Linked DNA regions of Homo sapiens. The protein of the gene in region 2 interacts with the protein of the main gene of each other region in a pairwise test. Each region holds a gene or a part of one and is shown on either strand. Other genes may lie near its edges. The genes, in order: FH and DGCR6.

Region 1 (5,959 bases), on a different chromosome or scaffold from region 2:
GTTTTTTTTCTTTTGAGACAGGGTCTCACTCTGTCACCTAGGCTGGAGTGTAGGGGTGCAATCTTGGCTCACTGCAGCCTCAACTTCCTGGGCTCAAGGAATCCTACCACCTTAGCTTCCTGAGTAGCTGGGATTACAGGCACACACTACCAAGCCTGCCTAATTTTTGTTTTATTTTTTGTAGAGATAGGGATCTCATTATGCTGCCCAGGCTGGTCTCAAACTCCTAGGCTCAAATGATCTTTCTGCCTCAGTTTCCCAAAGCGCAGTCTCCTAAAGTCGGTGTCCCTGACCCACCATGCCTGGCCTTGATCTGGTCCCTCTGTGGTAACAGAAACAAGGTTGGAGGGATAGGTGTGTGTTTAACACACAGGATATGTATGTCCCAATTTTCTTAACCTATTCTATCACACACACACACGTGCGTGCACACACACACACACATATACACATCCCCACTCAAAAGGGCTTGGTCACTGTGTCTCCAAATCAAAGGAAAATAAAAGATGGCTAAGGACATAGTTTGGGAATGAGATAATAAGATATAATCGGGCAATTTTTTAAACCACCAATAACCTCCAAAATTAAAACCCTTTAGAAATTGGTAACTTATGAAGTCACAAAGACAACATGCACAAATATCATAGATTCAACTATAATACAAGTCAATTAACATAGGAGAAAATTTAAGTCTGTTTTCCTTTTTATTTTATAAATGTATTTTATTTTATACTTGTTTAATCCATCTTAGACCTAGCACATCCTAGGGTTTTATATACTGATCAAATTGCTCTGCTAGAGATGCTTAAGTTCAATAGCAGTTTCCTTTCAAACTTATCCGTTTTTAAGAAATGGGAGTCTGTTTTTTTAAATTTTATACATGTTTATTTTCATTATAAATTTATGTAAATCACTTTGGACCCAGCATGTCCTTAGGTTTTACCCATTCGTCAAACTGCTCTGCTGTGAGATAGCCAAGTTCGATAGCAGTTTCCTTTAAGGTTGATCCATTTTTGTGTGCTGTCTTAGCAATCTTTGCTGCCTTGTCATACCCTGAAGAAAAAATAAAAAGACGACATATGGGTTAGCAGTGATATTTGGTTTCCTAAAGCAAAAGGTGACATAATTGTTTACTTGATATTGATGCTATATGGGCCTCTTAAATGACATTTTTTGTTTTTAAATTAGTTAACAGTGATTATCTCAATAATCATTTTTTATGTAGAACATTTACTTTCCTTAAGAAATAAACACTTAAACATACCTCACTTTCTCCAACAGATTTGTTCCTAAGTTGAAATTTTCCAGTAACTTAGATATTTTGAAGGGGAAAAAAGTAGAAATTATAGCACCACGACATAAAAATATACATCTGGGTATATTTTTCAAACAACATGTTTAACTAGAAACAATTATCTTTCTAAAGAAACATTAACAAGCTAAATGCTCCAGTCCAGCAGAAAATAAAGCACTGCACGTCTGGCAACTGTGGTGAGTGGCTCTGAGAGGGGAGAAGTCCTCGCAGTGAGGCAGGCGCAGGCAGGGCCTGGGGAGGGGTGCCTCCAGAGCTGCTTCCAATGGCTCTTCTCTATGTGGCTCTCCACTGCAATGGCTTCTATACCCTGGCCTCCTCCCAGACATTACAGGGACACAAATAGGGAGTCTGGGCAGAAATACAGACTGCACAAAAGATCACAGGCATACTGTTTACTTCAGAGTTATTTGCTTTTCAAATTAATAAAAGTGGGGGCAGGGCAGTTCTGCAAGCTGTCTTAACATATATATATATATATATATATATATATATATATATATATATATATATGTCAAGAAGAAAAAGCAGGAATGAAAATGAAACCAATGCGGGAGAAAAAAAACAAGATCAGAGAAATATGACCAAAAGGAAGAAGCTTGCTGAGGCAGTATACATCATCAATAAGATGGCATGTGTCAATATGCAATTATTAATCAGCTATAAAAGAAAGCATGGGCATAGTTACTTTTATTACTTAACTGAATTTGTGAATGCTAAATATGTTGAAAAGGGCATTTATTGATCTGAAAGGGCATTTATTGATGCCATTTACTGAAAAGGGCATCTTTCTTAAAGCAGAAATGCTTTGAGAAAGAATTTGCATGTTAAACTCTTGAGATCAATATATATCCAGTACTTTTATTTTAATAATGGCTTTAAAGTCTAAGCATTTCAGCTGTCAAGTCCAACAAGACACTATTGGCAACCAGCCTGGTACATAATGAGAATATAGGGAACCCATGATTCAGAGGGTTGTAAGGCTCACACCAAGTCAACTAGTGAGGTGGTGTTGACCCATCTCATTCTCATATGGCCTCTAACAATTCTTTTTATGTCACAATAAGTTGATTCCAATAAAGATTTGCCAATCATTCAACTTTAGGAGACACCTCTAATTTAAAGTTTTGGTAACACATTCTGAAGTAAAGATCTGATGAAAACTGCTCACACGAGCCTCTGGGTTCCCCTTTGTGTTTTTCCAGATGTAGTTGATGTACCATAATTTTAAATGGATCAAACATTATTACCAATCTCAATGCCACACCAAAAAACTGATATCATACTGGGCTCAGAGCTACCTAAAAGAGTCAAATGAGCTCTAATTTTAAAAAACTGTAATTATAGCTTGATGTGAAACCAGGAATATAAAATTTGCCTTGAAAGTTCAAGATTATAGAAGAAGCAGTAGCCATATTATGCCAAATAAGTGAATCATAACTTGTTCTATAACAGAAAGGCAGAAAATATATTAACCTCTGCTTAGCAGAAAGGAAGAATGGGTAAAAGGCTTTTAACACATCATAATATAATGCAACATAATGCCTCAAAATCTACAAAAGTGTAAACAGTTTATTTAATGGAGATCTCTATGGTCAGTCTACTACCCAAATCTGTATGTTTGATTCTACATAATGAAATATTTACAGTTCCAAAAAAGACTTATAATACAATAGCATGGTTTTAGACAAAATATTTGCATTTTCCTTCCTCCCTTTCACTATAAGCAATGAATACATAAACTTTTTCTTTTAATTGTAACTTTCCATTTCTGAATTGAATAAAACAACAAAATTAAAGCATTGTAGAGATCTAGGGAAGGTAGAAAAATGAGTTCATTCAATGTTGCTAATCAGCAGTGCCACCTAGTGACATTACCCACTGAAGGTCTTACAAATAACCTTCCCCAATGGTCTGCATAGAATATTTGGCGTCTGAATTCCATTAAAATCAAAATAAGTTTGAACTACTACTTCTCGATACATTTCAAATAAAATGAGGCATAATAGATCTAGTTTTGAAAGAACTATGACACCATACAAGTTATATAGTACCTTTCCACACAATTTCAAATATTTTGAGATTTTACTAAAACCATATTCAAAAGAAATTTGCTGTTCTCAAACACTGATCCACTTGTCTCTTAAAAATGGTTTAGCTTTTTAATTTTGCATTCAAAATGATATTATTATTCCTTAAACACTTACCTATATGAGGATTGAGAGCTGTCACCAACATTAGAGACTCATTCATCAGCTTGTTGATCCTTTCTGTATTGGCCTGGATTCCCACCACGCAGTTTTCTGTAAAGGAAACTGAAGCATCCCCCAGCAGCCTGGCTGAGTGTAACACATTTTTAATCTTTGAGTGAGTGAGAGAGAGAGAGAGAGAGAGAGAGAGAGAGAGAGAGACATTACTAAGGCAACATGTTTTTTGTCCAATAACATATTATTTTCTGGTTGACAGTAAATATACAATTCAATAAACATATAGATCTTCTACAAATTTTAAGGCACTATAACCAAGGAAACAAATGTGAAAGAAAGCATGAACATTTGAAGGCACAGAAATCTAAAAAAGGTGAAAAAGACATAAATACAAATGACTAAAACACAAAATAGCCCATAGCAAGTATTTAAAACAGAGGTCTGAAGTGTTAGAGACCATAGAGAAAGAGAAATTAACTCCAGTTGTCGGAACTGGTGAAATCCTATTTTATGGAGAGGACTTGGCCAGAGAAGGAAAAAGAATCTTCCACGCAGAAGGAAGAGGAGCAAAGATGCAGAGGTTCGAAAGTTCAGTATGAGTGTGAGGCAATTAGTAAAGTCAGGGCAAAATCTAATGATCACCAAATTTCTAGGTTTTCTATGCTTTAACGAATACTCCAGTCACTGTAAAATAACTTTTCATATAATATTAAAAAACAGTATAAAATCAATTAGTTTGTTTTGGCTTTGTTGGCAACATTTCCAATATTTATTAAGATATATCCAAATCCTAATATCCTCTGGTCTAAAACTCCGGTCTGAAAACTAGACTTCCAACAATGGACTCTAAGACATATAATCTAAGTTTTAATTTGCTACTAATGACCTTGTAATAAGGCAAATATTGATTATCTTTATTTTACATTAAAAATAAAATTTTAAAAAGATTAACAAGGCATTTATTGTTATGCACCTATAAATGCTGGGTATCTCGTGTTAACTGTTTGGAATCTGACCTGAGAGCAAAATTTTAACAGTCTGAGTTCTGCTCTGGCCTGTGTTTTTATTTACCACTAGGATATACATTCCATGAGAGCAAGAAATCTGTCTTTTCATTGCTCTATCTCTATTATGCATCCAGTACAGTGCCTGATAGAAAATGGTACTCAATAAATATTTAGTGAATATATTAAATATACTCCATATTTGTCATTTGCATATTCTTATAAAATTAAAATTAGAATTTAGAAGAGATTCCAAGAGAAAGTAAGCCCCTACTCTACTTTAGCTATAACACTTTGTCCAAATGAAGGACTCTAAATTATGGCAACAGCTCCACTATCTGCAGCTGAGGAAACTGATGAGAAATGGCGCGATGCATCTATCGATCTTCGTAAAGACGAAAGAAAAAGAACGGTTTGGGTGGACACAATGTTTTCAAGTATGTGGAAAGGTAAAGCCAGACAATGAAACGAAGTCTGACAGGGGGCAGAAGAAGAACTGGTGAAAAAATGTTCAAGAAAGCAGGGATGAAGAATGTTTCAAGGAGGGACAGTCAACATCAACTATTAGTAAGGGAAGAACTAACTGCGCAATGCCAGCTGGACTGAGGTAGTCACCAATGAATGGGAGAATAATTCAAGCGTGGAGGGGGCCATGCTGGGCTGTGGTGACTACAGCATAAATGAAAGTGAGTATGTGCTATCCTTCCAAGAAGACTGAATTTGAAGAAGAAAGCAGCAGCATGAGAAGGAGACAGGCTTGTAGGGAGGCATTTTATTTTTCTTAAACGGGCTATTAAAAAAAACATCAAATTGCTTAGGTTAAAAGTCAACTAATTTCTATTATCTAGGATTATTCTGGTAACTTAATAAATGCTTGACTTCCAACTGCTACTTATGTCACCCAACTACCCAATGTGGAATCACTAGAAGTCTTTATGAAATACAAAACCAAGATAATAAGCCTTTGGTCAAAAAACATTAAAAATCAGATTTAAAGCTTACCATCATTGGCTTGAAAACATTCAACTCAAAATGTCCATTGCTGCCTCCGACAGTGACAGCAACATGGTTCCCCATGACTTGGGCTGCAACCATGGTCATTGCTTCACACTGAGTAGGGTTCACCTTGCCTTCAAGAAAACCACCAATGACAGAGTAAAGACTAAATTTATGCAAATAATCAGGAGAATAAAGAAATCTAATTTCACTAAATAGAGTAAGATATACAATAAAGCAAGGCCCAACCATCAGTGTAATTTAATGAAACAAACCAACCAAGGAAGGTGGGATGGGTAGCCACAAAATGAATCATTCAAAGGCTAACGAGTAGCCACAACTACACATTAAATATAGTTCTCCACCTTCATGATTTTCATTCATTCTATACATATTTATGGAGCCAGGCACTCAATATACAACACTGAATAAGAAAGATG
Region 2 (3,575 bases):
GACTTGCCACCAGAGAAGAGCTGCAACATCAGGGCTCTTCCCAGGAACAGAGTGTTGGATTTCACGTTTTGTTGTGGCCAGGGACCCCTCCTTCCTGGGGAACTGTAGCCATTTGGCACTTAATGCACTGGCGCCAGCTGCGGGGTGCTCCATGTTCCATTTTGCCATGATGGTTTATGTCCCATGATCGCTTCCTCTGTACACTCCCTTCAGACTAGAGTTTGCACATCTGTGTTTGTGCACAGTTTAGCAGGGACCGTGGAGCTTTGCTTGGTGGCCGAGGGTGAGCCCCTCAAAGCCACACAGACTCCCTGGCCCAGAGCCTCACAGGCTTATGACACCCCAGGTTCATCCCAAACTTGGGCCTCCCAGGTCAGCTCACCCTTCTCCCTCTGGTGCTGTGTAGGGGCTGGGAGCTGCAAATGGGGGAGGGGGCTGCCCACCCTGAAGGGCAGCACCAAGGGTGGAGGGGCCAACCACACACCTGGTAGGCAGAGGCCCCACGCTCAGGGTCAGCGACCCGGCTCCTCCTGCTCCTTTCCCATGCCTTTGCCTGAGGTGGTCTCCAACACTTGAGTAGATGTCCTATGGCCTGTGGCCACGGGGGCCCTGAAGCCCTCAGACTGCAGCCTCCCTCCCGCCTGCCCCCTCCAGCTGCCCTGGGTCTGGGGCTGCAGCTTTGGCCCCACCTGGCCAGTCTTCCCCACCCCCACTCTCTTTCAGTGCCCCGCACCTTCTGGAATCCCCTGGAGACTTGCCGTGACAGTGGGGTGGGAGGATGGAGGAGGCTGGCGTCCTCCCCAGTGCAGACACCCCTTTGGCCTGGCTGCTCTGCTGGGTTGGTAAGGCAGGTGCCCATGGGTGAGGGCTGCTGCCGAGTCCCACCGCCTGCTGACGGGCTCTCATCCCTCCCAGTGCTCAGGCAGGCGCTGCGGCAGAAGCACCAGGAAGCCCAGCAGGCCTGCCGGCCCCATAACCTGCCTGTGCTTCAGGCGGCTCAGCAGCGAGAACTAGAGGTACTGGGGACGCAGGCAGGGTGGCCGGCCCAGCTCTCCTGTGGGCACCACCTGGCTCTGCTGACTGGGCTGAGCTGAAGGGGTGTGGGGGGCTCAGGTGTGGGTGGCTACCCTGGGCCTGAGTGGGACACTGGAGGCCTAGTGAGTCCCACCAGGTGGCTCCTCGCTGAGGGTGCCAGGTGTGCTGGGACTGGGTGGAGGGTGAGAACCCACCAGTGCTCCCCTGGAGTCCATTAGTGCCCCTCGTGGGTTGGGGTCTCCGCAGAGCAGGTGGCCTCGGGGGGTACAAAGGCAATGGTGGGGTGATGGGGCCAGCCAGGAAGGGGCCCATCCTTCTCCCCGGGAGCACAGGGACAACCAGAGACCGGCATGTAACCAACAAGTCATGGGGCAGGGTGTGCCTGCGGAGATGTGTGTGTGGTCCCAAGGCAGTCCCAAGTCAAAGCATTCGTGGAAGCCCCTTGGGGCCCCCTTCAGGGGTTCACTTGGCCGAGGAGAGGCCTGGGTGTGGTGAGGATGCATTGGTGGTGTCAGAGCTGGTGCTGTTGGGGACAGCAGCAGGAGCATGTGTTTGAGCTGCCCTCACCTCCCCCGCCGCCCCCGGCCCCACGGCAGGCGGTGGAGCACCGGATCCGTGAGGAGCAGCGGGCGATGGACCAGAAGATCGTCCTGGAGCTGGACCGGAAGGTGGCTGACCAGCAGAGCACACTGGAGAAGGCGGGGGTGGCTGGCTTCTACGTGACCACCAACCCACAGGTCAGTGCCTGGGCCTGCTCTGTCCTAGCCCGAGTGCCCCTGGGCCCCATTCCATCTGGGATTTCACTGCTGGTCCCTGGGGAGCCAGGCTCAGGGTATAGGGGGTGAAGTGGAAGGATTGAGGCTCTGGAAAGGATTTCTGTGCCATTCCCAGCATGGAGGCCAGGCCCATTCCCTACAGGGGGGTGAGCCAGCCAGCCATGGGCACTGCCCACCCTCCCCAGGCCTGCTGTGCCCCACAGGGCCCTCTTCTGCTCCCCTCCCGCATGCCATTCCAAGTGGCCCTGCTGGGTGCAGAGGCTCAGATTCCGAGTGGCCCTGCTGGGGGCAGAGGCTCAGATTCCGAGTGGCCCTGCTGGGGGCAGAAGCTCAGATTCCACCCTGTCGTAGCAGGCCATGACCAGGCTTCACAGGATGGTCGCCCCGTGGGCTCACTGCCTGGCACCTTTGGGCCGGGATGAAAGGGGCCTGGGGGTCACTCTGGCCTTCATGGGGCCCCTCTGTATCCCAGGAGCTGATGCTGCAGATGAACCTGCTGGAACTCATCCGGAAGCTGCAGCAGAGGGGCTGCTGGGCAGGGAAGGCAGCCCTGGGGCTAGGAGGTCCCTGGCAGTTGCCTGCTGCCCAGTGTGACCAGAAAGGCAGCCCTGTCCCACCATAGCCACAGGCAGCAGAAGTCTGGGCAGAGTTCATCTTCTTGACCTTTGGCCACTGCCTTCCCAGCTGCCCGCAGGGGGTTCCCCCTGCTGAGGAGAGACCAGGTGGACCCCAGCTGCCTGTCACCCTTCATCTGGGACTTGCTGTCAAACCCTAGGATAGTCTCATAAAGGGGAGGCTGGGCCAGCCTGCTGCTGTCTGCTTCAGGGCCAGGCAGAGAGTGAGGCTGGGGGTTCTCACACCTTACTCCACCGGGCACATCCCAACCTGCACTGGGGCCCACTCGAGCGCTTGTTCTGGTCTCAGCCGCTCCCTTGGCAGCTGCAGCCCCCATGCAGAAGAGGCTCCCAGGCCCAAGCTCTGTGTGACCCAGAGAAATAAAGATGCCTCAGTGTGGCCCGCATGTGGCTTGTGTGATAGCTGCAGGTTCTGCCATAACCGGGGCCCTGGTAGGGCCCCCACCTCTGTTGCAGCAGAGGCCTCTACCTGGGGGCCCCTTCCTGGGCTGTGTGCCCAGCCCACCACCCCTCCCCCTGCCTGGAGACTGGGACCCTCCAGCCTTTCCTGCCCCAGCCCTGGTCCCAGGATGCTGTCACTGCCATCTGTACAGGGGCCCCCATCCAAGCCCCAGGGCATGAGGACCACATCCAGCCTGCTTTGTGGGGCTGGGGGCTGGAGAGCATGGGAGAAGGCCCGAAGTGCAAGTATGCGCCTGCCGCAGCCTGGTCAGTGTCCTGTGGGAACCACTAGGAGGAGCCTGATGCAGGTCACTGGGGTAGAGGACTCAGGGTGGCAGGAATGGCCTGAGGAGGAGCCCTGCGGGGAGGCGTGCCAGGCCCACCTGGGGAGCTTGGCCTCTGCATCTGCATGAGTCCCCTCCGTGCTGGCCTGGGCCCATGGGCCCTGCTGGGTCCTTGTGGAGTCAGGGTTGGGGGTGTCCAGCACCCTGGGTGGCCAGGTCTGCGCAGGGCCTGGCCCCCAGGAACAGATGATGCTGGAAGCCAGAGTCTGGGATGAGACTTCTCTGACCCTGTCTGAGCCACTCCCTCTTTGTTGCCCAGAGCTGACCCTGTGTGAGGGCAAAGGGCTCTCAGCTGCAGGAACAGTGGTTTATTGACCAGGCAGGCCTCCCCAGCCCGGCCACTG

What was found.
Region 1: the proteins of DGCR6 (region 2) and FH interact in binary tests that used the Homo sapiens proteins (3 or more experiments, as listed by UniProt).

What each region holds. Positions count from the first base shown.
Region 1 is NC_000001.11:241,496,918-241,502,876, forward strand, and holds the end of FH (fumarate hydratase, mitochondrial), read right to left. Parts: intron 5,654-5,959; coding exon 5,526-5,653; intron 3,674-5,525; coding exon 3,520-3,673; intron 1,054-3,519; coding exon 911-1,053; 3' UTR 686-910; downstream 1-685. UniProt on the Homo sapiens protein: Catalyzes the reversible stereospecific interconversion of fumarate to L-malate. Experiments in other species have demonstrated that specific isoforms of this protein act in defined pathways and favor one direction over the other.
Region 2 is NC_000022.11:18,909,257-18,912,831, forward strand, and holds the end of DGCR6 (protein DGCR6), read left to right. Parts: intron 1-723; coding exon of another isoform or gene 724-842; intron 843-915; coding exon 916-1,016; intron 1,017-1,631; coding exon 1,632-1,772; intron 1,773-2,283; coding exon 2,284-2,433; 3' UTR 2,434-2,832; downstream 2,833-3,575. UniProt on the Homo sapiens protein: May play a role in neural crest cell migration into the third and fourth pharyngeal pouches.